Homo sapiens: one gene and its partners. The protein of the gene in region 4 purifies or fractionates together with the protein of the main gene of each other region. This does not show direct contact. Each region holds a gene or a part of one and is shown on either strand. Other genes may lie near its edges.

What was found.
Region 1: the proteins of FSTL1 (region 4) and DSG3 purify together in Homo sapiens (affinity purification with mass spectrometry; one large-scale study listed by BioGRID and IntAct). This does not show direct contact.
Region 2: the proteins of FSTL1 (region 4) and SPINK5 purify together in Homo sapiens (affinity purification with mass spectrometry; one large-scale study listed by BioGRID and IntAct). This does not show direct contact.
Region 3: the proteins of FSTL1 (region 4) and NDUFAF6 purify together in Homo sapiens (affinity purification with mass spectrometry; one large-scale study listed by BioGRID and IntAct). This does not show direct contact.
Region 5: the proteins of FSTL1 (region 4) and CGREF1 purify together in Homo sapiens (co-immunoprecipitation; one large-scale study listed by IntAct). This does not show direct contact.
Region 6: the proteins of FSTL1 (region 4) and COL12A1 purify together in Homo sapiens (affinity purification with mass spectrometry; one large-scale study listed by BioGRID and IntAct). This does not show direct contact.

The regions. Positions count from the first base shown.
Region 1 is NC_000018.10:31,456,759-31,462,363, reverse strand, and holds part of DSG3 (desmoglein-3 preproprotein), read right to left. Parts: intron 5,372-5,605; coding exon 5,240-5,371; intron 3,920-5,239; coding exon 3,764-3,919; intron 3,332-3,763; coding exon 3,187-3,331; intron 2,520-3,186; coding exon 2,353-2,519; intron 1,532-2,352; coding exon 1,403-1,531; intron 1,138-1,402; coding exon 952-1,137; intron 1-951. UniProt on the Homo sapiens protein: A component of desmosome cell-cell junctions which are required for positive regulation of cellular adhesion. Required for adherens and desmosome junction assembly in response to mechanical force in keratinocytes.
Region 2 is NC_000005.10:148,128,015-148,133,619, forward strand, and holds part of SPINK5 (serine protease inhibitor Kazal-type 5 isoform b preproprotein), read left to right. Parts: intron 1-3,244; coding exon 3,245-3,375; intron 3,376-5,605. UniProt on the Homo sapiens protein: Serine protease inhibitor, probably important for the anti-inflammatory and/or antimicrobial protection of mucous epithelia.
Region 3 is NC_000008.11:95,040,680-95,046,284, reverse strand, and holds part of NDUFAF6 (NADH dehydrogenase (ubiquinone) complex I, assembly factor 6 isoform 1 precursor), read right to left. Parts: intron 5,580-5,605; exon of another isoform or gene 5,358-5,579; intron 4,716-5,357; coding exon 4,659-4,715; intron 1,809-4,658; exon of another isoform or gene 1,690-1,808; intron 741-1,689; coding exon 638-740; intron 1-637. UniProt on the Homo sapiens protein: Involved in the assembly of mitochondrial NADH:ubiquinone oxidoreductase complex (complex I) at early stages. May play a role in the biogenesis of complex I subunit MT-ND1.
Region 4 is NC_000003.12:120,408,247-120,413,851, forward strand, and holds part of FSTL1 (follistatin-related protein 1 precursor), read right to left. Parts: intron 3,738-5,605; coding exon 3,608-3,737; intron 2,739-3,607; coding exon 2,706-2,738; intron 1,417-2,705; coding exon 1,286-1,416; intron 1-1,285.
Region 5 is NC_000002.12:27,111,804-27,117,408, reverse strand, and holds part of CGREF1 (cell growth regulator with EF hand domain protein 1 isoform a precursor), read left to right. Parts: exon of another isoform or gene 1-2,785; intron 2,786-5,605. UniProt on the Homo sapiens protein: Mediates cell-cell adhesion in a calcium-dependent manner. Able to inhibit growth in several cell lines.
Region 6 is NC_000006.12:75,084,054-75,087,553, reverse strand, and holds the end of COL12A1 (collagen alpha-1(XII) chain long), read left to right. Parts: intron 1-996; coding exon 997-1,007; 3' UTR 1,008-2,188; coding exon of another isoform or gene 2,189-2,364; 3' UTR 2,365-3,228; downstream 3,229-3,500. UniProt on the Homo sapiens protein: Type XII collagen interacts with type I collagen-containing fibrils, the COL1 domain could be associated with the surface of the fibrils, and the COL2 and NC3 domains may be localized in the perifibrillar matrix.

The DNA of each region.
Region 1 (5,605 bases), on a different chromosome or scaffold from region 4:
GCGATGGCTCATGCCTGTAATCCCAGTACTTTGGGAGGCCAAGGCGGGTGGATCACTTGAGATCAGGAGTTCGAGACCAGCCTGGTCAATATGGTGAAACCTTATTTCTACTAAAACTATAAAAATTAGCCGGGCATGATGGCACATGATGCGGACCCTGCTACTCAGGAGGCTGAGGTGGGAGGATCACTGGGGCCTGGGAGGTGAAGGCTGCAGTGAGCCAAAATCACATCACTGCACTCTTGCCTAGATGACAGAGTGAGACCTTGTCTCAAAAAAAACAAAAACAAAAACAAAAACACCACAACCACAACCACAACAACAAAAAACAAAAACCAACCAACCAAACGAAAAACCAAAGTGCTGTACCAAGGAAGGGGCCCAGATCACACTCTCAGATAAGGAGTCTGTCATAGCCAAGCATATTAAAAGCTTTACCCAATTATTTATCTTTTATTTTGCAGATTTTGTTCATAAATTCCCATTTTGTAGGAAGAGTTGCCATTTATTCTCTATTGACTGTAGCTAATCCATTTAAAACCGATTGACGAATGGGCAAGACGTGATTCCATCCATTCTTATCTTGTCCTAACTTCAATCTGATTGTTGCAAATGAGATTAAGTCAAGAAATGTGTTTTGCTTTCTTGTGCTTAAAGTATGGACACCCATAATATATGACCATGTGCTTAAAGTATACATCATCACTCCCATAGCATGTTAGTGTGTTTGTGTTTACTATAGAAAGTTCAATAGCTTGGAATGAGTTCAAGATGTTAAGAGAGGTTGTCCTCAGGTAAAGCGGCTCTATGGGGATTACAAAAAATTCAATCTACTTTTATGTGTTTTCTGTAATAAAGTGATATTAACAAATAAATACATTTTATCTGTAGAAATGATCATTTTGGTTAATACAGAATTTTTTTTACCAATGAAGGGAAGTCAGACCTTACCTTCACCACTTTCAGGATGCCTTCATTAGTTCTAGGATCAGTTTGTATTTCAAACCAATTTCCTTCATTCCCAGAGGTAAAGAAATATACTGCAAGCCAATTATCTGTGTACTCTTCATCCAAATCTGTTACTTGAAATCGAAGTAATTCAGAACTTAAAATATTTTCTTCAATACGTGCTGAATACTGAAAAGGCGAGAAGCAGAATTAAAGACCTAATGACAGGTTTTACATGGAGAGATTATGTTTCTTCTAAATGGTAATCCTTATTTCTCAAATTATGTATTTCCTTCTTCTTATTACTGAATTCTTATATTTTTTAAAAAGCATATTTCTTTAAAGATAAGTGCAGAGAACTTAAATAAAAGCCAACAAACAGGCAAGTCCTGAATTAGGATTTCAAAGTATTAAATATATATCTAAATGATTCTTTAAGGAGCAATGGGTGTACCTGAGAGTCTCTAAACATTGGGAAGTTATCGTTGACATCTTTCACTTTAATATTACATTCACATTGAGTTGATAGTCCTTCTCCATCTTTGTCTGCACCACTCACAACCAGACGATAGCTGCTAGCTTGCTAATTTTGGATAAAAAATAAAGAAAAATAATTAATCCCAAAGAATTATAAATGGAAACTACTTGATTCCTATGGGTAAGGAGGTAGAAATATTCAATTTTATGTAGAAGACATTTGTGGGACTCTGGATGGTTGGGTGGAGGTCTTTAAGGGGCTAGGGCAGGTTTTCTGTTTTGTGAGCTTCTTATGGCAGGACTGTACTCTACCGTAACCTTAGAGCAAAAATGGGCAATGAGTAGGGTGGGAGTAATAAGCTCACTTATGGAGCTTCTCTGTTAGTCTATTGGGAAAGCCATTTGTACAAAAATAATATGGGGTCTGACCGGGTAGCCTGTGGTAATGGAGATAGAAGGTGGTGGTGGTAGGTAATGAGGGGGATTGGAGAAGGAGATTCTTTAGTGCTCTGGAAGCAGGGATAAAATTAAGAGAAGTCAGGAGAAAAAGTGTGATATAAAAGAAGGCTTTATTCCAGACAGAAATTTCTCCCTTCATCTAAGACACTTGCTTCTCCTCCATCACATGAGGAATTAGCTGCAGTTCAATCTTTGTCCATGTATGTCTATGTCAATGCCTTCTTTCATTGCCCCTATTTAACTTCCACTGGTATGTTCAGGGTACAACTGATTCTGCAGGTGCCCGGTACACATCTCGCCTCACCAGAATCACACTTAAAAATGCAAACAATTTCCCTAGATTAGCCAAGTTAAGTACTGAGAACCTCTTTTCTTTTTTAATTTTCGGGTAAAATGGAGTCACCTCTCTTGGTTTTCTTATAATCAAACCCTTTAATCTTGAATGTTCCCCCAAGTGCTTTGCTGTACCTCTCGGTCAAGAGAATTGGTCAAAGTACGGACTTCCCCAGTGTTTCTGCTTAGGAGGAACATGGGTGTGCCTGCTGGTTCCTGAGAGACAATTTTGAAGGCAATTTTAGAATTCAAGTGGTTTGGTTCATCTGCATCTGTGGCATTTAGTATCATCACCAGTGAGTCTAGGAATACAGGAAAACGTTTATTAAAGAATATGTAACAATTAACATTATGTTTACTTTAAATATTCCAAACAAGTTCACATTGATGCTAATTTTTAAATATCCTAAAATCATCTGTATGTTCAAAAAATTGTATATCACTTGTGATACCTCTTTCTGTCTCTCCCAACCAGGTAGAACTGTGCTTCCTTCCATACAAACTCTTCGATTCTCTCTAAGCCTTACGTTTGCTGAGATTGAGGCTATATTCTATCTCAATTTTCTCCCTTGATAGATTGTCATAATTCTCCCCTTTCCACAAATTATCCAAGTAATGTGAGTGTGTCTCTGTCCTTTATAACCTGAAAGAGCCCAGCTGATGCATCCAGGCTACCCAAGGCTGCCTGTTTAGCTTTGTGACTGCCAAATGCTCATATAAATTGTATATATAGAATAAGATACTATTGACCTGATAACCAGACTATAACTAGAAATACAGTGATAGTAAATAATTAGCTCAAATACACATTTTAGAAAGGAAGACCCAGATTTATCTTAATGAATTTTATTTTTCAAAACTACTGATTAAACTAAGAGCATAAATTAGTTTATAAGAATGACATATTGTAGTGGGACTCATATTTGAAAGTAGATAAACTGAAAGTGGTAAGTACTGTAAAAGACTTACTTGAGGCACTATTTTCTTCAATTTCACCCATGAAAATTTGTTGTGAAAATACTGGAGGATTATCATTAATATCCAAAATTTTAACCGTTAGTATAAGTGGTTTCTCTACATCTAGTCCTTGGGCATTTAGAGCCCGACATGTGATCTAGGAACAGAGGGAAAATGTGGAGTATTACTCTGCAATCAGTTTTCATACTATTAAAACTTGTATAAATAAGGCCTCTGTTGGCATGGACATCACTTTTGTGCAAAGAAGAAATGTTTCCCCAAAGGGTAGACAAAGTGGAAAAAGGTGCCTGCTCTGGGCAGACCAACTGGGCAAGTTGCCCCTTCCACCAGGCTAATGCTGTGTCATGGCAAACTGAAGCACTTGGCGTGCTAGATTTCAACCCTCACTCATGCACCCTCTGCTGTGTTCCCTCAGGCGAGGCTCTGTGGAGGGACTAATATTGTTATTTGCTGGTGGACTGATGCATGTACTGAACTCTCCTCTAAATTTACCAGTAGAAAACTGTCACTTTCTAAAGCGATGGTATACAAGGAGAAGGGTAGCCCAATGTTGAGGACCCAAACTTACCAGGAAGCTTGGAGTTTCCTCCCGGTCGACTATAGCTGTTATGTTAATATCTCCAGTGTTTTTGTCAACAACAAAGATTCCAAAAGGCGGCTGATCGATTCCCACTCCAGAGATTCGGTAGGTGATTTTCTGGGTTGCTTGGTAATCTGAAGTAATCTACAGCCCCAAATACCAAAAACGTTGAGGTGACCATCACTCAAGCCTTTCCCTCTCCACCCCCACTTCCATAGTCTAAAGTCATCTGTTCATTCGATTCACTCTTTTTGACATTGTGCCATTTACTTTTTGCCTTGATAGATACTAGGAATATGAAATAAAATCAAACCGTTGTTTTTGACAACCAGCCTGAACCAATGATGTGCACTAATCATTTTAGTGTTAGAATATTTGCTCAGACTGTGGCCACATGATAGTGTTAAAATGTTAAAAGAAAGTCAAAGTCATTTAATATTGACAAGGCTACTCCTGAAGGCTCCCTCTTTACCTGACAACATTAAAAAACAAAAGATATTTATTTAGTTTAAATAGGGGGAAGTGGAGAGACAAAAAGGGAAAGAGATTGTATGGTAGGGTTAAAATATGTATTAAAATAATTTACTTATTATTATTGTAATTTTAAAGCTTTTTAACATGAAAAATGTGAAATATATGTAAAGTTAGAACAGTATAACAGGCTGGGCGTGGTGGCTCATGCCTGTAATCCAAGCACTTTGGGAGGCCGAGGTGGGCAGATCATGAGGTCAGAAGTTCGAGATCAGCCTGGCCAATATGGTGAAACCCCGTCTCTACTAAAAATACAAAAACAATTAGCCGGGCATGGTGGCACACGCCTGTAATCCCAGCTACTCAGGAGGCTGAGGCAGGAGAATTGCTTGAACCTGGGAGGAGGAGGTTGCAGTGAGCTGAGATCGCGCCACAGCACTCCAGCCTGGGAGGCACAGTGACTCCATCTCAGAAAAAGAAAGAAAGAAAGAAAGAAAGAAAGAAAGAAAGAAAGAAAGAAAGAAAGAAAGAAGAAAGAAAGAAAGAAAGAAAGAAAGAAAGAAAGAAAGAGAAAGAAAGAAAGAAAGAAAGAAAGAGAATAGTATAATAAACCTGATACATCCTATCACTGAGCTTCAACAGTTATCAATACATGACCAATCCATATTTTGCTCCCAACCATTTCTGTCTTATACATGCATTATTTTTCCTATTTGTTTGCTAGACTCTGTATCCAAGTAAGCCTTCTATATTAAAATTGGTCAATATGTCTCAATTCTTTGTCTCAATTCTTTTTCATAACCCTAGAAGCTACCTTCCTTTCTCTCTTTCTCTCATTATTATTATTATTGTACTATTTTGTTGAGGATACCAGTTCACTTGTTCTGTGGACTCCCCAGTCTTCATTTTGTTATTTGGAATTGCCGTATTATTTTAATTTACACCTTATACATTTATTCTAAAAACTCATACGCTCCTGTTGATATAACTTACCTTGGCAATTGGGTTTCTTTTTGAGTTATCTTCTCCTTCTCTGCAGGGTTTGGCAAATTTCACCCATTCACGTTTTTGCCTTCTTTTAGCTTGTTGCATAGTCATCTCTTCTTCATCATATTGACCTTTAGTCTTATGTAAAAAGGGATTCCATTTGTTATGGAAATTAATGGCAATTTTTGCTTAGAATATTGATTACAGACACCTAGTTGAGGAACCCCCTATGTTTCAAGATCACTAAGACTGTTAGGTATCTAATTAGCTCTACCTGATACTTTGTCAAGCAAGTAATAAATGTTAAATAACTAAAATAACTACAAAGCTATGTGATTTTTAATATTAGCATTTAGTCGTATTTTATATTTT
Region 2 (5,605 bases), on a different chromosome or scaffold from region 4:
TAAAAGGAAGATTTTAGCACCTAGGCTGATGACCCAGAAAAGGAGAAAGAAAGGTATCAAACATGAATTTTACTTCATTATTCACCCAATTCAACTAGGGTAATAGATGAGTTACATACATGAAATATGCATTAATTACATATTTCTGGTAAATTGAGCTCCACATCAGGGATCCGAAGGCATGGAGAAGAGCTATTAACAAAATATGTTTTTTTTTTTAAATACTAAAGTATAATAGTTACATAGAAGAAATGTACATATGCAAGTAAATAGCTAAATGAAATATCACAAAGTGATCATACCTGTGATAGCAGCAAGAAATAAGATATCATCAGCAGACCAGTAGCCCCCTCATTCTCCCTCATAAGCTACAGTCTGCTTTGGAGCTATTTCTTTTGGAGAAATAAATCTTTCATTATTCATTTTTTTCATCAAGCCGGCAGTCCTTTTGTCAGTCTACAAATACTTACTGAGCACCTGCTATTTTTCCAGGCATTATTTATTTACTTATTTATTTATTTATTTATTTTCTGAGAGGGAGTCTTGCTCTTTCGCCCAGGCCGGAGTGCAGTGGCGCGATCTCGGCTCACTGCAAGCTCCGCCTCCGCAGTTCACGCCATTCTCCTGCCTCAGCCTCCCGAGTAGCTGGGACTACAGGTGCCCGCCACCACGCTAATTTTTTGTATTTTTAGTAGAGACGGGGTTTCACTGTGTTAGCCAGGATGGTCTCGATCTCCTGACCTCGTGATCCGCCCGCCTCGGCCTCCCAAAGTGCTGGGATTATAGGCGTGAGCCACCGCGCCCGGCCTCCAGGCATTATTTACGTATGCTAGGTTAATAGCCATAAACAAAACAGATAGCGCTCACTACATGAAGTTCATAGTATATTGGAAAAGCAGATACAATAAATAATATGAATAAATGAAAAAATAATGCCAAGGAGGAAATAAGGCAGAAAAAAATGGTACAGTAAATTCTGAGATGGGGAGGGGAGGGGATACAATTTTAAGTGACATATACAGAGAATAACTCTCTCAGAAGGTGACATTTACATCAAGACCTAAGGGTATTGATTCTGTAGGTATATCTGAGGAGAACATATTCCAGAGAGAAAACATAGCAAAGCGTTTAGTGTTGTTGAAATAGAGCTACCTCAGCTGTAGAAGAGGAAGTCAGGAAGCTAATGGGAGGCCATGTTATAAAGGGTTTTGTAGACAATTTTAAAGACTTTGCCTAATATTCTGAATGAAGGTTCTGAGAAGACTAATATGATTTGATTTATGTTTTAAAGGAATAACTTTGCCTGATACCTATTGAAAACACTGCAGGGAGGCAAGGGCTGGACAGCTAGTTAGCTATTGCAGTTGTCTACAGAAGAGATGATGCTGGTTTATACCATGTTAGTAGTGGTGGAGCTCTTGAGAGGTGGTAAGATACTGGGTCTGTTTTGAAGGTGGAGTCAACAGAATTTTTTGAGTTGATGTACTATGTTAAAAAAATGAAGAGAGAGAGAGAGTAAGGAACATTGTAGTACCTTTTGAACATTATAGCACCAGTTACCTGAAAAAATACAATTGATATACCTGGTTGAGTCTAACCTTTGCCAGGGTTTCATATAAGTTACTTATCTAAATTCTCTGTGAATATTTGTACCAATATGGAACTCACCACAATCTAAAGCAATTCATTTAGGTGTTTGAATCATTTATCAAAACAAAGGAACAAGTACACAAATACTGCTTGACTCCTCCAAAATGAGTATTAGCAGATATAATACTATTAAATTTTCTATGTCGTCTTTGTATCTGTTTTCAGTAAGTAGTTTTCAAGGAATTTATTAATTTCATCTATGTTGTCAAATTTTTTGGCATGTAGTTATTTATAACATTTCTAAATTATTCTTTTAGTATCTACAGCTCATATAGTGATGACCTGTTATCTCTAATATTGGTAATATATGTTTTCTTGACTCTGGTCAATTTTGCAAATAGCTTATCAACTTATTCTTTTCAAGCAGCTAACTTTTGGCTTTGTTCTATTTTCTATTTCATCAATTTCTCCTCTTTATTACTTATTTTAAAAAATTTTCTATGCTCATCATTGGCTAGCTCCTTCAGATGAAAGTTTAGATCATCCATTTTAGAACCTCTTTCTTTTCTAATATATGTATTAAAGTTATAATTTTCCCCCAAATTACTGCTTTGGCTGCTGGGATTTGATAGGTTGTATTTTCTTTGTGATTCATTTCATTTCTAAATTCTATGATTACTTTGAGTCATGAGTTATTTAGAACTCATCCTTTTACTTATAAATATATTTCTTATAAATATTATATAGTTGATTCTTTTTGTTCTTCCAGTTGGATAATTTCTGTCTTTTAACTGGAGTACTTACTTCTTAATATTCTATGTAATTACTGATACCATTGGATTTAAGTCTTCCATCATCCTATTTGCTTTTGAATACTTTTTTTATATTTTGGCTCTACTTTTTGCCTTTTTAAAAAACTAATCAAGGTCTTGGAATTATCATTAATTATTAAACTCATACTTCCAAAACACTACGAAGAGCAAATATGTTTCTTCTTTTACATGGAAAATATACATATGTTTTTTACCGTGGAAAACATACTAACAACTAAAATTTACTGAACACTTAGTATGTGACAGATACTGCGTTAAGCATGAACTTACATGCATTATCTGTTTTAATCCCTTCAAGCAGTAATATAAAGTAAGGACTACTATTATTTATGATTTTCTGGTGAGAAAATTAAGGCTGAGAAAAGTTAGATAAGTTACTTCTCTAGTTAGTGGTAGAGCTAGGACTCAAAAACTCATGCAATTTATGAGTATTTACCTCTGAGTCTTTCCTTTCTAGGCTGTATATAACCAATACCTTCACTTAAAAAGGCGAATATTATTTCTGGCATGCCTATCATTCTAGATTTCTTCTTATGGGCAGGTAATTGTGTCACATATTATAAAGGATATTTGCTTTCTTATTGCTTTGCTACTCCTTGTTTCTTTGTTTACTTACCTTGTCAAGTTAAAAATTGCCAAATACAGGAAGTTAAATCCACCTCATATGGTGCAAAATCAATCTTTGAGTTTGAATAACATATATCACACTCCTTTTACAACCATTTATTCAAGTTGGATTAAGGAACTCAAGAGGTTTTCTTAAGCCCACCCCTCTTCTTGAATGCCATAAAGTACGTCTGCTTTATTTTTTGCTTCTTCAGGATTCTGAGATGTGCAAAGACTACCGAGTATTGCCCAGGATAGGTTATCTTTGTCCAAAGGATTTAAAGCCTGTCTGTGGTGACGATGGCCAAACCTACAACAATCCTTGCATGCTCTGTCATGAAAACCTGTAAGTATTCAAGTTGCCCCATCATATCTTCCAGTTTAGAATTTCTCAGCTAGAGTGTTAACCCATAGTAATGCACTGATATAAATTCGAAATGTGTTGCAAGTAATTTATTCATCATAGAAGTTAAAAATTCAAAATTTGTGAATTATCTTTCTTATATGTAAAATAGAAAAGATTTAAGGCTATTCCTTTGGTAAATTGCTTACCTACATTGTTATATGCTCTACTGAGAAGAAGAGAAAGAAAAAAAATAGTGGAGTTACAATTGCAGAATATTGGTATAATCCTGTGTACAGTCATGGGAGTGTGAACATCATTCATTCTGTGTGTAGTGGAGAAAAACAGTAGAGAACTACTGCTATATAACCCAGCCCAGTGTATTATATCTAAAAGGTCCTGTGACTATAATATAGCTACATATTCCCCATTTCTTTAACCCTGCCTCTTGAAAGAAGTAGTACCTTGCAAAAGGAAAGTGCACTGTACAAAAGAAAGCCCAATAAATAAATAGCTGATCTGATGTCTGCTCTCATATTTATGACTATCTGGGTATCTGGAGGCATATTATTTCATGATTCTGAATCTCACTCCCTTCATTGGAGAAATGGAGACAGTTCTCTGAGCTGCTGACTTCACAGATGATTGAAAAGAACTGCTAGATATGAAAATATTTTTATCTTAAGTTAAATACAAGGGATTCATTTTAATACTCTTATTATTGGCTTTAGTTTTGTTGTTGCTACTCTGCTCAAATGCTGTCTGAATTTTAAAATAATTTTTAAATAATTTCCCCTTGTCTCTATATGCATCCCTTCCCTTCTCCTGGCCACCATTTGGCCAGCTTTCAAGGAGAGAATGGTGACAAACCTTGGTTTTCCCATCTCACCTGACCCCAGACCTACATTGTAGTACTACTTTATCCTTCTTAGGACACTATAAGCAAGGCCCAGAACATGAGGATAGGACTCCCTGATATCCTGCTTTTTAATCCTGGAAAAATATTTAAAAGAATTCATCTTTTAGGTAAGGTATGGTAGATATAGGTAAGGTATGGTAGGTATGGTATGGTAGGTATACTTCATCTATAGGTAAGGTATGGTAGATAAGGCACTTTCAGATTTCAGTCACTGAATCCCTGCAACCTGCTATGGAATGTTATTATCTTTATTGTTCAGAAGGTTAATCTGAGGCTCAGAGAGTCCAGGTAATTTGTTTAAAGTTACAAAGCTAGGGAGTAAATCAGACAGGATTTTGACCTTATTGATTTGGATCTAAATACAGTTTTCTTTTTTCTCCACTAAACTACTGTTATTTCTAAGACAGTAGTTCCTTAAATTGTCAAAGACCAAAGATTCCTTAGATAATATGAAGAAAGTTACTCCTTTCAAGAAAATTTAAAAAAATGTGATATGAACAATCCACACACATAATATTCATAGGCTCGTGGAGTACTTGAAATTCATCTGTAGACCTTATAGGTTTTTAAGAATTAAGAAATTCCCGTTTAAGGAATAAATATAACTGTCCAGGAATTCCATTACTATATATACCTTATCTCCAGCCCAGAAATCCTTTAATTCCTCTTTCTTATAAATGTCAGGGCCTAAATTATCCATATAATTTTCTTCAACATTTTCATCAACTTTATAGACCCATAACAAGTGATCTTTTTAAGGGAAATTTAGCATAAGAAACTGAAATGATGAAAATATTAAGAAAGCATACCTCAGGATAGTTTGTTTAGCTAAGGGAGCTGGGAGTAGATATTATAAAGAAGGATCAGGTTATCTGAGGCAAAAGGAAACAATATTCATTTCTAAGGTTTTAGAGAAAGTTATATGAGAGCAATTTCAATTTAAGCAATGCTAAAAGACAAATTGCACTGCCTTGATAGATAATGAGTTTCCCATTACCAGAGGCAAACAAGTACATGTCTGATTCATAATATTTCTCCAGTGAGAGGCATTAAAATTCGTACTCCTTAAGATTCATTCCAACTACAAAACTCAGACTGTATCATTTGTGTCTTGTTATATTTTTCCCCAGGTCGTATTATTGGTACTCAATATAGTCAAACATCTCTCTGGGATCTGATTCTCGCATCTATAAATGCGAGATCACCTTTAGACCAGATGATCTCCAAGTTTATTTCCAACATTCTCTATGAATATATCAGTGAATGAAATGTGACAGGATAGGTCCAGGGCTAGGGGATGAATCTGGAGCAGAA
Region 3 (5,605 bases), on a different chromosome or scaffold from region 4:
TCACGAGGTCAAGAGATCGAGACCATTCTGGCCTCGTCTCTACTAAAAGTACAAAATTTAGCTGGGCGTGGTGGCACGTCCCTGTAGTCCCAGCTACTCAGGAGGCTGAGGCAGGAGAATCACTTGAATCCGGGAGGCAGAGGTTGCAGTGAGCCGAGATTGAGCCACTGCACTCCAGCCTGGGGACAAAGCGAGACTCCATCATAAAATAAAATAAAATAAATAAAATAAAATAAAATAAAATAAAATAAATGTGTTTTACTTCTTCTACTTTTCTTTTTCCATGGATAAGTACTATTAACACGAAAGGAAGAGTCAGGCTATAGGCCTTCCAAATTGTAGGAGATGCTATAGTAAAAAAGTAAAGCCACTTGCAATTACCAGATTATTAATTTCAACATTCCCATGAGGTAAAGTAGTTGTATGAGAGCCTGAGTCTTGGATTACTCTGCATTACAAAGAAAGAGATATAAATTCTTCTTCTTGCTAATAATAATAACAAAAAAAACTGTTCCTTTACAGATAGTATAAAGGAAGGCTTTAGTGCTAAACTGGTTAGATTACCAAATTATGAAAAAGTGAAATCTCATAGGTATTTTATTGGAAAAAAGAAGTATGAAACAGAAAAACAACTTACCCAATATTTCTAGTGTTAAGTAAAGAAGAGAGCTCTGTGTGTTTTCAGCATAATTTTCCAGTTCCTTGATATTACGATATGCTTTGTCATCCAGATTTTTTTCCTACATCAAATAAAATGCAAATAAAGTCTGTTGAACTGTCAATATTTTAGAAAGAAAAGGTGCTGTTTTTTGCCCCAAAGAACTGAATAACGAATAAAAATATTCAGTATATGTTATTTAGTACACAATAAGATAAAACATTACAATATTGAAGTTCTACACATTCAATACTTTGAAATCACCACCTCAAAATAAGACATCAGGAATAACCTCAATATACAAATCACCATGGACATGGCATTTTTTTTAAATTTCATCTGAAGCCCAAGTTATCAAAATAAACTGACTTTACTGAGCTCTTACATAGGCACTTTAGACATTACGTAGGCACTTTAGACATTATCTTCTTAACCCAAACAACCCCCCCTCCAAGAGATAAGGAATTAATACTTTTCCCATTTTACAAATGAAGAAACTGAGGCATGGACACATTAACATGTCCAAAGACACACAGTTAATAAATAAATGGTGGGGACGGGAACCCACATATTTGACTCTTGAATCTACATGCTCAATGAGGAAAAGGTACCTAGAAAAAGAAAACAGAAACCAGTGCCCACCTCATCCCCTAAAAAGAAACCATGCTCAATAAAATAACAGGGTTGATTCCCTAGATACACTATATGCAAGAAACAGAAAAATGAGAATCTAATAGCGAGAACACTTAGCCACTTTTACAAAGACTATTATTAGGGCAAAATATTATCCCCTATTTCACCCTCTTTAAAATCAGAAAAAACTAACACCAGCATCAAATGCCACATGCAGGGTTTAAAAAAAAAAAAAAGAGGCTGGGTGCGGTGGCTCATGCCTGTAATCCAAGCACTTTGGGAGGCCGAGATGGGCAGATCACCTGAGGTCAGGAGTTCAAGACCAGCCTAGCCAACATGGTAAAACCCTGTCTGTACCAAAAATACAAAAGAAGTCAGCTGGGCATTGTGGTAGGCACCTGTAATCCCAGCTACTCGGGAAGCTGAGGCAGGAGAATCACTTGAACCCGGGAGGTGGAGGTTGTAGTGAGCCAAGGTCGTGCCATTGTACTCCAGCCTGGGCGACAAGAGTGAGACTCTGTCTCAAAAAAAAAAAAAAAAAAGAAAATGACATCAGCAATGATTCCAGGAAAAAAAATGCATCCTTTATGGTTTTTTTTGAGACATAATTAACATACCATAAAATTTATCCCTTCAAATAATACAATTCAGTGGTTTTTAGTATATACACAAAGTTGTGCAGCTATCACTACTATCTAATTCCAGAATATTTTAATGACCCCCAAAAGAAAAGTTGCATCCATTAAGCAGACACTTCCCATTTCCCCCCCTCCTCAGCCCTGGCAAACCACTAATCTACTTTTCATCTTCATGGATTTGTCTATTCTGGGCATTTCATACAAATGGAATCGTATAATATGTAGCTTTTTGTATCTGGCTTCTTTCAATTAGCATATTGTTTGCTTCATCTATTGGTACTTTATTCTTTTTAGTTGAATAAATTATGAATAATATTCCATTGTATGGATATACAACATTTTGTTTAACAACTCATTAACAGACTATGAGTTCTTTCTACTTTCGGGCTTTCATGAATAATGTTGCTACAAACATTCATATACAAGTTCTGGGTGGACATATGTTTTCATTTATCTTGGGTATAAACCTAGGGGTAGAATTTCTGGGTCTATGATAACTCCTATGTTTATCTCTTCGAAGAAAAAGTTGCCAAACTATTTTTCCAAAGCAGCTGCACCATTTCACATTCCCACCAGCAATGTACGAAAGGTTTTAACATCTCCCTGTTCTCACCAATACTTGTTATCGTGCATCTTTTTTCTTTTTTATCACAGCCATCCCAACAGCTGTGAAGTGATGTTTCTTTGTTTCAATTTGCATTTCTCTAATGAAAAGATGCTGAACATCTTTTCAGATGCTTATTGGTCATTTGTACACCTTATCTGGAGAAATGTCTACTCAAATCCTTTCCCCATTTTTAAATTAGGATTTTTTTTTTATTCTTGAGTTGTAAGAGTTTCTTGCATATTTTAGATAATTGTCCCTTATCAGATATATAACTGGCAAATAATTTTTTTCTTTTAGTCCAATCTATCTATTTTTTCTTTTCTTGCTTGTGCCTTTGGTATCACATCTAAAAAACCACTGCCTAGGGCGCGGTGGCTCAAGCCTGTAATCCCAGCACTTCGGGAGGCTGAGGCGGGTGGATCACGAGGTCAGGAGATCAAGACCATCCTGGCCAACATGGTGAAACCCCATCTCTACTAAAATACAAAAAAAAAAAATTAGCCGAGTGTGGTGGCGCACACCTGTAGTCTCAGCTACTCAGGAGGCTGAGGCAGGGGAACTGCTTGAACCCAGGAGGCGGAGATTGCAGTGAGCCGAGATCGTGTCACTGCACTCCAGCCTGGCAACAGAGCGAGACTCCATCTCAAAAAAAAAAAAAAAAAGAAACCACTGCCTAACCTAAAAGTCATTAAGATTTACACCTATGCTTTCCCCTAAGAGTTTCACAGTTTTAGCTCTTACATCTAGGTCTTTAATTTAGTTTGAGTTCATTTTTGTATATGGTGTGAGGGAGGGGTCAAAACTTATTCTTTTGCAAGAGGTATCCAAGTGTCCCAGCACCATTTGTTGCAAAGACTGTTCTTTCCCCAGTGAAGTGTCTTGACACCCTTGTCACTCAATTGACTATAAATATATGGGTTTATATCTGGACTCTCATTTCTATTCCATTGATCTATATGTCTACCCTTTATCAGTAACACACAGTTTGATTACTGTAGCTTTGTAGTTAAGTTCTGAAATCAGGAAATGTGAGCCCTCTAACTTTGTTCTTCTTTGTTAAGATTATTCTGGCTATTCTGGGTCCCTTGCATTTCCATATGAATTTTAGGACCAGTTTGTCAATTTCTGCAAAAAAGAAAGCTGGAATTTTGAAAAGGATTGCACTGAATCTATAGATCAATGTTTGTTCACAGTTCTTTACTTTTAAATATCCCCCCCTTCAAAAGCCAAGTGTTATTTTTCATTAAACTAAAATGGTATCTCTGTCTTGAGTTCCCTAATTTTCTTTACCTTGTAAAACAGAAAAGATGACACCTGAAAATAGGTCTTCTTAGCTAATATATCTTTTTGGCTTCTTCTTGTTATTGCTACAGCCTATAGTTAGCAAACTATCTAAATAAACTAAGTAAACTTACATATTTCCATGACAACAGCATGTAATTAATATCAGGCCAAGGGGAACACAGACCTAACAATGCATCAGAAAGGTCACACATGTTAGGCCAGGTCACACAGCAATTCACTGACTTGGCTGGACCTAGAACTCAGTTCTAAGAATTTAGTACAGGATTCCATTCACTGGAACTGTCAGACTTTCTTTATGCCCTCTACTATTTAGACACCGATCCAAGTACTGGGGTATATTTAAAGGTATGTGTATGACTAATCAAGTATTTGATGATATTAAGGAATAATTAGTAATTTTTAAGGTATGATAATCATATCATGGCTATGTTTTTTGTCTTTATCTTTTTAAGATATATATGTATTTACAAATCAAATGATAAGATGTCTGGGATTTTCTTTAACATGTCACCAGATACTCTACACATGTAGAGTAGTCTCTCTACTTTTATGTAAGTATGAAAATTTCCTTTTGAAAAAACCAAAATAGTGGAGTGTGGTTGTGCATACACATGCCTCTGCCTTGGTGCTTGTCTGTCTCAATGTGAGGGTATGGGGGGTAGCATGCAAGGGTAAAGTATGAATAAAATGGCATAATTCTCTAAAAGTTTCCTTCCTCCAAAATATTAATATACAGTCAAAAAATGTCCTTCTTGAAGAATTAGCTTAAGAATTAAACAGGAAGAAAAAACTTAAGACTTGAACAATTTTGACTCACTCTTTCATCGACGATTTTCATAAGCCATCTTTTAGTCAGATTATGTCTTTTAACAGCCTAAAAAACAAAGAGCATTATAAGTTTTTAGAAAGTACTAGAAATGACTTCTGTAGATCTGAATAAAATGAACAAACCAAATACAAAACTAAGTAAGGGAACATTTGTAATAACATCACCATATAGACAGCTATGTTAAAGAAGTATCAGGGAAAAAGAAAATGTCCCTAGAAAATATTTCAAAACATTTATAAGACTATACTTCTAATACTTTTCTACTAACTTGTCTTTTTTTCCTATACTGCTAATAATTTAACAATTCCACTTTCAAACAAAACAAAACCAGAATTAAGCATTAAGTACTGAGCTTCTCTATTAAGTGATATACCCTGACTTTTTTATTTTTTTAAATTGTAGAGACAGGGTCTCCCTATGTTGCTGGTCTTGAACTTCTGTGTTCAAATTATCTTCCTGCCTCAACCTCCCAAAGTGCTGGTATTATAGGCATGAGCCACTGTGCCTAGCCACCCTGACTTCTATACTTACTCATTATACGCAAATTGTTTTCCACAGGATAAAGATTCTATTTAGCAAAAATAACCACTCCTCGAAAAATAGAGTAACTAAAACTCCAACAAAAATAATCCACATGGTAAATTGTTACCTTAGCAAGTAAAGACACTCCAGTAGGAAAGAGCTCACCTAGTGCCCAGACACTTGTCTCTACTACCATTCTCCTTAAAGGAATCAGGGCTCTCGAGAAATGGGCGATTCCAAAGGTGAGGCAGGGGAGAGATTCAAAAGGATCCTAGAATATCTTATTGTGTCAGAAAATAAGAAAGTGCTCCAAAAAATGACGGAAGCGTGTCACAAGGACATAGCAGCCGCTGTGAAGGAGTTTCCGCTGTCCAAAGCTGGGACAACCTGAACACCAAAATCAGTACATGAGT
Region 4 (5,605 bases):
TTCTTCCTCTAAGGGCTCTGTAATGTGGGAGTGATTGAGAGAGAGGACAGAGCAAGAAAGGCTGTGCTTTTTCATCTGGGTATGATCTCAAAAACTTGGAATCCAGAGATTTAGTATCTGCCATAGAGGAGAGAAATCTCTATGTAAAAATGACACAAGTGAAGTCTTAAATGACCAAATATCCATTTGAAGCCAACCCAGTATTTCTTCATCTGCGGGTTCTATAGTGTCAGAAAGAGAAATCCACAGACTAGACTGGCATTGGCCACATTAGGTGGCCTCAGAGCTGCCAAGAAAAGTCCTTCATGTGTCTGAAGTTGCTCCTGAGTCCTGGCTGGGTTGGGCCCTGGAAGCATGTGAGGGAGTAGATGGCTGGGGCATCTACCTAGTGAAGAGGGCTTTGGTGCTTGCATGGAAATGTGGGTATCTGAATGTGTCTGCATGTAGGATGTGTCTCTGTGTGGCATGTGAGTCTCTGTATGTGGTGTGTGTGTGCGTGTCTGGCATGTTTTGAGTTTAAGTGTGTCCTTCTCTGTGCTTCTGAGTGTGATATTCTGAGTGTGATGTACCTGTGTGTGTGTCTGTTCTTGTCAATCAGCTGTAAGAATGCCCTTAATTGCTTCTTCTAACTCTCAAGTTCTGTGAAAGATCTGCATGGCATGATAACCCGAGCCATCACTAAATATTATAGCTTCCTTCATTTCTCTTTGTGAAAATAGCATCTCTCCTGCTCCCAAGTGGAACACTCTGTCTCTTCAACTAATTATGATTGGGAACAGCAATATCTAAGTTCAGGAACAATCTCTGGACCCATGAAATGCCAGTCCATTGATTCTTCTCATATGAAGACTCTCTCCAAGCCATTGGCAGTCAAGTTAATGACTTAGAGAAATGTCAAACTAGGCAGGAAAGAGGCCAAAGTGGTCCAGGTCTGGGTGCAATCAGAGGGAATTTTGTATTAACAGCCAGATCCATAAGGTGTCATGGCGAGTAGGGGACAGAGCTTGGCCCTAACTGACAGGTTCTCCAAGACCTTTGTGGCTTTCACTGCCTGAAGGCAGCAGCACATGTGTGTTAGATCCCAAAGACTCCACTGCTTACTCCCACTGATCAAGCTGGTCAGAAGGCAACTTTCACAGCTTCATGAATGATCTATGATGAGGAAACTCAGGGTGTCTGTGCAGGTTTACATTTCCTGTGGTCTGGGAAGGTGTGATCGGGCAATGGGAGGAGGAAGCTTCCCTTTCTATGGGCCTGAATAGTCTTCCTCCTACCTCTGGATTACCTTAAAATACTTGTCTAGGATTTCACTGTAGTTGCTGCCTTTAGAGAACCAGCCATCTGGAATGATCTCAGCTTCCAGCCACTGGATGATGCGACGTCGGAGCTCATCACGGTTGGACTGATAGCAAACAACTGCAGGAAAGTGGAGGATGTCAGCTGGAGCAGTCAGGGGAGGACCCCAGTGATATCTGGCACCCACTGTGTGGGAGCATCCGTGCCCATGGTTCTGCATATGTCATCCCAGCAACACAGGGAGATAGGATTAGCACATCCAGGGTACACAACTGGAAAAAGTCTAGCCCAGGATTCAAGCACCCATCTCTAAAATATTTGTAAAGATTGAGAATATTGAAACAGAGAGATTTTGCTGCTTATGTGAGAAATAACTAGAGCAGAAAAATAATAAAGGATACTTTCATTAACTTTAGGAAGCTGAAGGGGAAAAAATCAATAAAGCAGCTCTCTTGACTCAAAGATGAGCTGAAATAATACATGAATAAATGAGAATATTACAGTTTTTATGCTACTAGATTTCTGATTTTCTCCAGTTTCTCCCTTTCTCACCAACTAGGTCCATCCAAACTTCCCCCCACTTACAACTGTATACCACCTGCATCATCCTTTATTATGAACAACAGAATGTGAAGGCCAGTGAGGGCTACGTCGAAGCCCTGCTCTGGACAGCTGTTGTCCACTGGAAATAACAGGGGGTGCTGAGAGTTGAGTGGATGGGGAAGCAGAGGAGAGAAAGCTTTGGCAAAAGAGAATTCCTGGAAGACAACACATGCTGTGGGTGAAAAGGGCACTGGGCCAGGGGAATGAAAATCTGGGAGTTCTTCCCCAGTCTGCCAATTACTAGCTGTGTGATATAGAAAACTCACTTAGCCTCTTTGAGCCTCAATTTCCTCATCTATATGGTAATTACAATAAGATCTACTTCACAAAGGCTACCGTGAGAATCTAAGGAAAGTATGTGCAAAAAAGCTCTGTAACTATAAATCATGATAAAATTTTAGTGATCACTAATAGAAAACCACAGAAGTCTTACTGGCATTTCCAGTTATCCCCTTTCAAAAAGAGTTGTGCCTTCTATTTGCTGGTCCCATGACACGAGCATGTCTTATAGGATGTTGAAAAATGAACTCAGTGGCTTTCCTGTTTATGCAGTTCAATCACTACTCAGGAAAAATGGGAAAACACAGCCAACATTCTGACCCAACCAGCTGCTTCAATTGGCAAACACATACACAAATGTAGTTTTGCAGCTTTTCTGAGCTGTGTTGAGGAGTGGCCAGTTCTGGGACACAATTCTGATGCATAGAAGATCTTATGAGCTTGGCAGGGATTGTGGAACACAAAATTTCTATCATGAAAAGAATGTCCTCCCTGAGATGCACACAGTAGAAAAAATAGGCACTCACCTGGGCTGGCAGATGGACTTACGGATTTCTTCTCTGCAAGACAAAAAGAGAAAACGTGTAATGCGAAGTGAAGGAAAAAAGAAAATTTTTCTGTATTTCTAGGATTACAGCTGCTCTACATGTAGGGGAATGTTTGTAACCTTTTCATCATTTTGTCTTGAATCCTTTCCCTTCCTTTCCTTCTTCTAGGGCCCAGGTATGAGGATCTTCTGTCTCCTGCTTTGTCTGACAATTTAGGGCCACTGAGTTACCCTTCTGGCCTCATACCTCCTCCTGTTGCATTGAGGGGTCACTGGGATTTTGAGAATTCAAATGGAGAATCATTCTGGACAGGGAATGGAGTGGAGACAATCACCTGGGAAACAGCTTCTTGTTTCTTCAAGGAAGGGCAAGGCTGAGAGGGGCTGGGCAGGGCTATGGCTTGGCAGGGGGCTGGTATCTAATTAGCAACAAGTGTGGGACTTCTTCCTTCTTATTCTAATGGCAGTGGTTTCAGTGCAAAATAGAGGAAACAATACTGAGAGGTGCCCAAATTAAAAAGCATGGGAAAAGTGAAACTTACCTACTTTCTAAAAAGGTACATAATTCATTTAAGGAACTTTCTTATTGTTACTGATTTACTGATGGGGTCCACCCTATCTACTATCCAGCTGCAGACAGTGCTGAAAACCCCCATGGGGATCTGATATAGCAAACCCTGGGCAGAGGCCTGGGCCATCCAGGGCAAACCCAGCAGGCTCATAAGTGACAAGAGGATGCAACTCCAACCAACTGGGCGCTTTCCACAGCTTTGAGAGGCTGTGGTCGTGGAGGAAAGACCATGTGGTCAGCCAGGCCACACTGCTCTGTTCCTTGGCTCCCCGTGGCTAAAGCTGCCTTGCAGTGGTGAGAGCACACCTTACCTTTGCAGTGTCCATCGTAATCAACCTGGATTTTGGATCCAGTGAGGCAGGCATCTCGATGCAGTTCACAGTGGTTGAGGTAGGTCTTGCCATTACTGCCACACACAGGCCTCTTGTGAGGTTTGCATTGCTGAAACAGACCCAAAAGAGAATGTTTGTGCAGTTATGGATATCGACACACAGACACACACACACACATACATGCACACACACACACAGAGCCATTTTGTAAGGGGACTCTCCACCACCAGAGATGGTGCTTCTACCCCATCAGGGCACAGGCAGTCACAGTTCTGGCCAACTGACCCTGTCTCAGTTGCCTATGGCCCTTCATGCCTATCCTGGTCCAGGGTCATCTCTTCTATTCAGTGAAGAAAGAGACACCCTCTATAGTTTCAATGTTTGTGATCCCTCCAAAATTCATGTTGATACTTAATCCACAATGCAAAAGTATTAAGAGGTGAGGCCTTTAGGAGGTGATTAGGTCATGAGGACTCCTCCCTTGTGGATGAGGTTAAGAAGTGAATAAAACAGTCTTCCTACAGCATTTGGCCCTTTGGCCCTTCTGCCTTCTGCCATGTGAGGATGCCACATGCAAGGTGCCATCTTGGAAGTTAGAGACCAGGCCCTCACCAGACATCAAATCTGCTTGCACCTCAATCTTGTACTTCCCAGCCTCCAGAACTGTGAGAATTAAATTCTTATTATTTATTAATTACCCAATCTCAGATATTTTGTTATAGCAGCCCAAACAAACAAAGACACCCCCCACATCAAATGAGCAGAAAGGGCGTTTTATTAAAAGCCAGAAATTTGAATTCTCTGTCACTTTGGAAAAAGTAATTTAATGTCTCAGAAGATCTAAGATCCCTTAATATTCCAACATTCAATGACACAAAACAGCCAGAGCTGAGAGCTGGGAATGTGGAGAGGCTGATAGGCAGGCAGGCAAACACACACACATGTGCGCGCGCGCGCGCGCGCGCACACACACACACACACACACACACACACACACACACTCCAATTCTTCTGCAGCCTAACTGTAAGGATCTCTTGCTGTATATACTATTGGGGGAACACTTTGTTTTCCTCCTGATCTCAAGCCTTTGTTGTGAAGCTAGGAGTAGGGTTGCCTGGGTCTTTGTGAAGTACTACAGAGAATCATTATGGACAGGGAAATGGAACAAAGTTCATATGGCAACTAGGTTATGCTTTGGCTGCTGAAGGTGCCAAGATCACAGGCAAGTTCAGTTTCTTTGGACTTCTATGGTTTTTAAAGGGGAGAAGCAGGAAGTAAATTTAGCTCAGATCCAATAAAGAAAGGAACTGAAACAAGAAAGAGCAGATGGTAAAAAGAAGCACAGAGCACTGGAAGTGGATGGCAGCCCAACCTTTCCAGTTTTAGTTGAGGATACCAAAAACACAAATTTCAGTGAACCAATATTTATTATGGAGTGCTCACTATGTGCTGGGCAACGGGCAAAACCAAATGTGGGCACTGTCTTCACAGCATCTCCTGAGACCTCAGGTTTGGTCTCAGCTCACCCACATCTAGTTGTACAATTTTTAGGATCAGGTTTCTAGATCCTAAGTCCAGGCTTATGCCACCACACTGTGGCCAGGTACACTGCCAGTGAGGACCTCCCAGAGCTAATGGATCCCCAGTAGGATCTGGCTTTTAGGTTTCTGAGTTAGAAAACTTCCTTTCTGGGGCAACAAATCAGGATCCTTAACCTGGGGACTAAATTGGTTGTATTTAATTTGCAGAAAGACGTGTTTCCAGGCTATGGGTTGTTTTGACAGAAAACAGAATGTCCAAGGTATTTATGTTCACTTTAGTGGCAGAACTTGTCAGAATCCAGCCTACAAAAGAAGTATTTATCAAAGGCTCTCTTTGTTTTTTAAACATTAAAAAAAAAACTCCCTCTCCCTCTCCCCCTCCCCCTCCCTCTCCCTCTCTTTCCACGGTCTCCCTCTCATGTTGAGCCGAAGCTG
Region 5 (5,605 bases), on a different chromosome or scaffold from region 4:
TTTATTGGACAGGCAGTGGTTCAATAACTATTTTATTTCTCTCACAAAAGCTTTTGTTAATGTTTAGAAATGTCTAAGTGTCAACACATCGCACTAACCTCATTACACATTACATGAGGTGTCTTAGCCTTTCCTTAAACCACTGAGGTGGGTTACTTGCACTAAAATGTCACAGTTGGAAGCATTACTTAGAATATTGGCCAGGTGCAGTGGCTCATGCCTGTAATCCCAGCACTTTGGGAGGCCAAGGTGGGTAGATCACTTGATCAGGGGTTCGAGAACAGCCTGTCCAACGTGGTGAAACCCCGTCTCTACTAAAAATACAAAAATTAGCCAGGTGTAGTGGTGCACACCTGTAATCCCAGCTACTTGGGAGGCTGAGGCAGGAGAATCGCTTGAGCCTGGGAAGTGGAGACTATGGTGAGTAGATTTTGCGCCACTGCACTCCAGCCTGGGTGACAGAGCGAGACTCTGTCTCAAAAAAAGAGAGAGAGAGAGAGAGAGAGAGAGAGAGAGAGAGAGAGAGAGAGAGAGAGAATAGGCCTGGCCTGGTGGCTCATCCCTGTAATCCCAGCACTTTGGGAGGCCAAGGTGGGCAGATCACCTGAGGTCAGGAGTTCAAGACCAGCCTGGCCAAGATGCCGAAACCCCATCTCTACTAAAAATACAAAATTAGCAGGTCATGGTGGCACATGCCTGTAATCCCAGCTACTCGGGAGGCTGAGGCAGGAGAATCGCTTGAACTCGGGAGGTGGAGGTTGTGGTGAGCTGAGATCGCGCCATTGCACTCCAGCCTGGGCAGCAGAGTGAGACTCTATCTCAAAAAAAAAAAAATTATACTGAAAGTCCACATCATTTACTTTTTTTTTTCTCTCTCTTTTTTTGAGACAGTCTTGCTCTGTGACCCCAGCTGGAGTGCAATGGCACAATCTTGGCTCATTGCAACCTCTGCCTCCTGGGTTCAAGCAATTCTCGTGTCTCAGCCTCCGAAGTAGCTGGGATTACAGGCACGTGCCACTGTGCCTGGCTAATTTTTATATTTTTAGTAGAGATGGGGTTTCACCATGTTGGCCAGGCTGGTCTCAAACTCCTGACCTCAGGTGATCCTTCCACCTTGGCCTCCTAAAGTGCTGGGATTACAGGTGTAAGCCACCATGCCCGGCCTTTGTTTTTTTTTTTTTTTTTGGTGGCATCTTGCTGTCATCCAGGCTGGAGTGCAGTGGTGTAATTATAGCTCACTGCAGCCTTCAACTCCTGGGCTGAAGTGATCCTCCTGCATCAGCCTCTCAAGTAGCTGGGACCATAGATTTGAGCCACCATGCTGTCTAATTAAAAACAATTTTTGTTTGTTTTTTTTAGAGATGGGGGGGGTCTCATTTTGCTGCCCAGGCTGGTCTCGAACTCCTGGCTTCAAGCAATCCTTTTGCCTTGGCCTGCGAAGTACTGGGATTACAGGCGTGAGCCATTGTACTCAGCCCAATCACTTGCATTTTTGAGGTGGGCTATAACCGAATGCTAAGGTTGTCAGGAGGGCCCAGGACATTCCAGATTGAGGATGGAACAGGTTGGGCAAAAGCACTGAAAAGTGAAAGTGGAAAGTATTTTAGGAGACTCCAATAACTCCTTGGTTTGAAGCAGTGTGCTATCATAATACAGCACTGGAAGATGAGTCAACAGTAACTTGATATCTGATTGTAGAAGGCCTTGAATGCCCAGGTGAAGATTCTGGACTGTAATCGAAATAGGGAGCCACTGAAGGTTCTAGAGCAGTGGAATTCTAGCAAAGGATGATTTATCTGATGTGGGTGTGGAGGGTTCTTTAAGTGGAGAAAATACCAGAGACAGGGATAACACTAAAAGGCTTGTATATTAGTTTGTGCCAGAAGTAATTCATTATTCATTTAATGTTCACTGTAACCCTGTGAGGTAAATATTATCTCCAGTATGTGGATAAGGTAACTGAAGTTTAGTGAGAAAAATTAATTTACCCAAGGTCACAGGGACACTCAGTGGTGGAGCTTGGGTTTAAAAGTAGGTCTGGCTGTTTCCAAAGCTCTGTTTTCTGTCCATTAAACATACTGAAGAGTTAAATATATGAGGGGTACATAGGACCAAGAAGAGGAGAGTGATAGTCATTCACGGGGTAGGACTCAGGACCAGGTGCATAATTTGCAGGGCTCGGTGCAAAAATGATTGAGAGTTTCAAGATAGTGACAACAGAGCATTAGCCTAAGCACAGGGCCCCTCTGAGAGCGGGGAACTTGTGACTTCACAGGACGCACACCCATGAAGCCAGCCCTTACATGGTTGGTTTTCCAATTACTATGGCAGTGTAACAAACCACCTCAAAATGTAATGGCTTAAAAGGATAATGGGCCCAGCATGGTAGCTCATGCCTATAATCCCAGCACTTTGGAAAGCCGAGGCAGGAGGATTGCTTGAGCCTGGGGGTTTCCAATCAGCCTGGGCAACATGTGAGACCCTGTCACACACACACACACACAAAAAGATAACGTTGATGTTGACTTTGCACATGAGTGCAGGCTGTGGAGACAAGCACATTTCTACTGCATTCAGTGTTGGCTGGGGCAGCTCAGAGGCTGGGGGTTAGAATTATCCGGAGCTTGGCTCTCTCCCCTGTCTGGTTGTTGGGCTGGGAAGATTTGAGCTGGAGGCTTCTCAGGCATCTGTTTCTAGGTGGGTTCTCCACACTCTCTCTTCCGTAGGGTGGTTTCGGGGAGACCAGGCTCCTTCCATGGTGGCTCAAGGTTCCAGAGGTGCACATCTGTGTGTCAAGTGAAGGGGAGAACCAGAACCAGGCATAAGCTAGGTCACTTTTATTACTTGGACTTGGAAGTCATGTAAGCACCATTTCAGCAACTCATTAGAAGCCAGTCACTAAGTCCAGATCATATACAAGGGGAGGCGAGTTAGACTCCAAGTTTTGTGGGAAGGAATGTCAAAGAATGTGTAGACAGGTTTTTAAAGCTACCACAGTGGCCTAATGAGTGAGAGGATGAGTGGATCTGAGGGGTGCTTCCCCTTTATGCCTGAACGGCTCCCCCCAGAGTCATCCTTTGGAGTTCACAGACATCCTCCTTTAAAAGGCATCTGAGGGCCGGGTGTGGTGGCTCACACCTATAATCCCAGCACTTTGGGAGGCTGAGGCAGGCGGATCACGAGGTCAAGAGATCGAGACCATCCTGGCCAACATGGTGAAACCCCGTCTCTACTAAAAATACAAAAATTAGCTGGGTGTGGTGGCGTGCACCTGTAGTCCCAGCTACTTGGGAGGCTGAGGCAGGAGAATTGGTTGAACCTGGGAGACGGAGGTTGCAGTGAGCCGAGATCACGCCACTGCACTCCAGCCTGGTGACAGAGCGAGACTCTGTCTCAAAAAAAAAAAAAAAAAAAAAAAGGCACCTGCTAGTATGTAAGAACACGTGAAGGCTGGATGATGAGTTTTGACAGCTCTGAGGGATTTAAATGACTCCAGTGCCTCCTGTCGGCCTGGGTCCTAGCAGTAAACAGATAGGGTGGAGAAAGCAATTTGAGAGGAGCCAGGTGGGAAGGGGGTGTGTGAAGCCACTGTGGGGCCGTGCAGATGAACTCTTGGAAGGAAAAAGGCCTTATTGTAGATCAGGCACTGCACTTTACACATCTTGTCTCATTAATTAAACCCTCACCACAGCCCTGCCAGAGGTGCTCTCGTCAGCCCCGCATTACAGATGGAGAACCTGAAGCACAGAAAAGCCGCACAGCTAGTGGGCTGCGGAGCCCAGATTTGAACACAGGCAGCCTGAGGTCAGGGCCCATACCCCCCAACTTTGGGCCGTACCACCTATTCCATAGCAATTCTGTGTTTTTCTTGCGTTAACATTTGTATCTTTTCCTACTTACATATTTGCAAGCTTTAGGGGGAAAAAGAAAAAGTAATTCGACCTTAAGAGATCAGCTTAGTGATAAGAGAGTGCCTCACATATGGCAGGTGTTCAATAAATATTAAAGAAATGAATATTTATCCTTATTGTACAAACTTATATCTAACTTGCCTTCCCTACGGATGCTTGCCCTCTGGTCTTTGTCATGTGGCAGCTGTTGGTGCTTTCCATGGTATTCTCTGTGGCACCCAGGCCAGGGAGCCAGAACTTCTGGCATTCTCCTGGTCAACTGGCTCTCTCAGCCATTAGGCACCCCTCCTTCCACCTTAGAGACTGGAACCCTCAGCTGACCTCAGCCCCCTTCTTCAAACCAGCAGCACTCTAGATACAAAGAACTGGGAGAGGCAGCCCTCTCTCTGCCCATTCACCCAGACCCTCCTTCAGCTGCTGCTTCCTGACCTCCCAGGCACCCTGTAGGCAGGGCCTTCTCTCTAACCTTCCTGGAAACAAGGCACTCATCTCTGCGGCTCCTGGACCCCATTCAGTACCCATAGGGTTTCTAGGGAGATTTCTGTCTTCTACTTCCTGCTGAGGCCCAGGTGGTGGAACCCCACCCTTCTGGGGACCCGGGAAGCCTCCACACACTAGCGGCAATTCCTTCAGTTCTCTGTCACTTGTCTCCTCGAACGTGATTTGTGGTATATTTCATGACACAGAAGTTTAAACTTTTGATATACTCAAATCTGCTCATTTTTTCCTTTTAAACTTTCTGAGTTGATGTATTATATTTAATGGTTCTATCACATAATATGGTTTGTTCAGCCATTGCCTAAATGTTAGACATTCAGGTTGCTTACATTTGTTTGACTAATATTAATAGCACAGCTATACATATCTTTGTAATTTCTTTTCCATTTATATTCTTTTATGTAATCCCCAAGACGATATTGTTGGGTCAGAGTTTTAGGAAATTAATACACATTTCCAGACTGCTCTCTAAAAACATTTCAGGTTTATAGTTCCAGAAGCAGTAAAGGTTAATACTCACTGATTCAGTTTCCTTAGTGATTGTAAGACTATCAAAGCTTATTTCTTTTTGCATCAGTTTTGCTATTAAGTTTTTCTAGGAAATTGGCCATATCCTCTAAGTTTTCAAATCTCTGCTGTTTCTTTAGTTATGTCCCTATTTTCCTTCTTAATATTGTTTGTGCCTTTTCTATTTGTTCTTTTAGTCTTTGGTTTATTTTTTTCTGAAATGGGGTCTCACTCTGTCACCCAGGCTGGAGTACAGCAGCACAATCACAGCTCACTGCAGTCTCAACCTCCTGGGCTCAAGTCATCCTTCACCTCAGCTTCCCAAGTAGCTAGGACTACAGGCGTGCACCACCACACCCAGCTAATTTTTTAAAATTAATTTTTTGTAGAGATGGGGGTCTCACTATGTTGCCCAAGCTGGCCTCCAACTTCTGGGCTCAAGCAATCCTTCTGCCTCAGCCTCCCAAAGTGCTGGTGAGAGGTGACAGTGTGTGCCCTCGCTCGTTCTCGGCGCCTCCTCGGCCTTGGCGCCCACTCTGGCCGCGCTTGAGGAGCCCTTCAGCCCACCGTTGCACTGTGGGAGCCCCTTTCTGTACTGGCCAAGGCCGGAGCCGGCTCCTTCAGCTTGCAGGGAGGTGTGTAGGGAGAGGCGCGAGCGCGAACCGGGGCTGCGCGCGGCGCTTGCCGGC
Region 6 (3,500 bases), on a different chromosome or scaffold from region 4:
CCCCAACTCACCTGAAGTAAAGAACTTTACGGAAATGAAGTTCCTTAGGATTGAAGGAAGGCTGATTTGAAGATGTCTTGAAGATAACAACTCTTTCAGTTCTGATTATATAATAATAGTGTTTGCTATCATAGCACACAACATTATTTCACTGTTAGGATTGAATTATTTTCTTTTTTCCCCATGTTTCTGCATTTACCAAATCACATCATAAACCTCCCCTTACTTCTCTTGGGACTTCAAAGCATGCTAGTAATTGACTTTTTTTTTTTCTTTTCCCCAAGATTGGGAACAGGGATTTGTTAAATACAACTGTAAAATGCCAAGAATATGTATTTAAAAATTGTTTTGGGAATCTAATTTATGGGTAAACTATGTAATAATATGGTGTAGACAACTGAACATAGTTAACTGTCCCATACTAGCCATGGAATTAATATTTATAAAATCTGGGACTTAATAATTGTTTTTAAAGGATTTTTAATGAAATTCTAGTGTTTGACAATTGTAGAGGGCAGAAGTCTCCTATACTTGATTTTGTGGGATGTGAGGACTGGGTAGATATGCCAATCTGGAAATAAGATAGTCATGCTGTGGTCAATGGCGACCATTTCATTACTGCACCCTCAAGCATCTTGCAAATTTAAAAAATTATACTGCTGTTTGATATGATTTGCTACTTTCAAATAGTGCATGAGTAGTTGAATATCTAAATATCTATATATCTATATATTTATATGCATAATTACATATGACCAAAAGTAATAACAAATCTTAATGTATATTTCCATGCAACCCATTCAAAAAATTGCAATTTAATTCTTTATAAATTTAAATTACCACCTCCTTATGGGATGTGAGAATAACTAAAAATATATGGATATATATATATATATATATATATACTTTAACCATTACATACGTAGATGGATGTGTATTTATATTTTTTACTTAGTCATTCAACTTTTAAAAACTATCATCTTTGACCTGTTTCAGGTTCCGGCTAACACATTTTCTAAGTCGCCAGTGCTGCTTACAGTTTGAATACATGAAAATCCTGTTTCTGAGATGTTTGCGCACGTGCTTATTAGGAAATGAGTCTGTATGGAAATCTCACCACAGATAATGGTTAACGAACCGGGTCGACATCACAAAGGAGGGTGGAGACTCTTTTTACTAACTTGAATGAGACAAAAGCAGTGGTGTCAGTTTATAATCCTGATGCATTTCAGTAATAATGTAGAAAAACATTATTTTAAAAAAGTTCCAACACACAGCCATGAGGAGCCTCAGTTTTGAAAGAGGTGCATAATAAAACTACTAACCAGAGGAGTCTATGCCATTTTAAGAAAAACAATTAACCTGGTTAAAGAGAAATGTCTTATGTAAATAATAAACTAATTGTGGCTTGTAAATGATTTGTATGTGATCCTGTCGACTAAAATCACTTAACAATTCTACAATAAGCTTCTGCATCAAAGCCTGCCGCTTGCTCTATGCCGGAATAACACCAAATGGAATCTCCTCATCTCTTGCTTGTTAGCGATGTGTCTGATTCAGGGCATCTGTCTTTTTGTTACTTTTTTGTCCGTGTCCTCTCATTTGGGTTTTGTAACTGCAATTTTCAAACCAAAGTTTAAAATCACCTTTTCTTCCTGTTTTGCTGTAGTCACTGGTGTTCCTCACCCACCAGCTGTAACTCAGTTTGTGTGAGGTACAGCCACAGAAGATGTCATGTACTGTATATTACCTGGTGATAGTTGCTTTTCACCCCCCGAGTTCAGTTTCTAGGAGCCAATGAAACTTCCCCTCACCTCCTCATCTTTCCAAGTTGTTCTTTGAATTGAGGAGTTTGAAGGCATAAACAGTTACTTGGGGATTTGCGAAAATCCTACTTAGTTACTGCGTTTACAGTTCTTTGGCCCAGTCTCTGACCCTTCCCAAGTATTTGTGCAATGATTGTGTTTACTGCTGGATTTTTGAAGGTTTTTTTTTTTAAGAAAGTGCCATTTCATTATTTGATTATCACCAAATTATCTGGAAATAATTGGGACATTGTAACTTATCTATTTATAGTTATGAGATTAAGACTGGAGTGCCATCACCGCGGGTGATGATTTAGCTTTTGCTGTGTGTGTGTGTGTGTGCCTTCCAAATCATGCCATAATTGTAATGTTGAATCGGACAGAGCCTTACGTGCCCGAGGGCGGGGCCTACCTGCCTGAGCGCGAGCCCTTCATCGTGCCGGTGGAGCCCGAGCGGACAGCGGAATACGAGGACTACGGCGCAGACGAGCCTGCAGAGGAGCCTCCTGAGCCCCACCGGCGCTGGCGGCGCGCCCTGCCCCACGGACCCGGGCAGTGAACCAGAGATCACGCGCCGCGCCGCGAGGCTTGGGGGAGGTGTTGAAATTCTCATTTACAGGTCAGATAGAGCAGTGTACGTCTTTTCTGAGGTGTTTCTTCCAGCGTTGCTCATCCAGGAGTACCCTTTCTGATTGTAGAGAACCTTGTTTCTGCAGGAAGCCTAGCTCCAAGCACGCAGTCTGTAGACATTTTTGCCTTTGCCCTTGAAATGCTTGCAAAATACTTTGTTAACAAAAGCTGCAAAGAGAGAACATGCCGTGTGCCTTTAGTTAGCACAGCGGGCAGCCTCAGTGAAACTCTTAGGTTAAGCAGTTAAGTCCTGGAACCCAGAGCTGCTGTGTATTTCGAGCGGGCAGTTTATCTTTTGCTATACTTATTTTCAATTCAATTACACCACGATTCAAATAATTCCCCTCCTAAAACCAAAAAGGAGGGAAACGTCAACTCCATTGCAATTACTTATCTTCCTCTTCTATCTCTGTTATACGCCGGGGCATAGAATGCTCGTATACATCTCTTTAACAACCACAAACCTTAAGCCATGTAGATGAAGTTAGTGCATCAACGGGATACAGTTCCATATTGCCTTAAACCTCCTTGTTTTAGACACACTAACATTTATACCAAATTGCAGATTATTCTGCAGAGAGGGAATTGCATGTTTGTGTTGTATATTTAGTATGAACTTTTTTCAGAATATAATATTTCTTAGTTATCAAAAGTAGTTGGAAAACATTTGCAAGACTATGAACATAGAATTGCTGCTTTTATATTTTAACTGCAGATTGTGAATTTCACTGCCTTATATTATTTATTTCTGAAACAAAAGAGGCATTTTTCAATAAAACTACTGAAAATTTGACATGGCATGTTTCTTTCTTTGAAGGGCCTTTTGGACTGCCTCAAGTGGTTGTTACAACAAACAAGTTCATATCCTTGGATACGGTTACAAATCTTGCTAATACTATTAAATTATGCTAAATAACTTTAGATTTTTAATGATACGGTGAAGTCATAGAAAGAGAGTGGTGAGAGCCTTAAAAAGCCCAGCAGATTCCAAAGGCTTTATTAGGAATATAGAGGATGTGTGGGTTGGTGGAAAAACAACTATGTATCCTAGGATACCCCAAACAA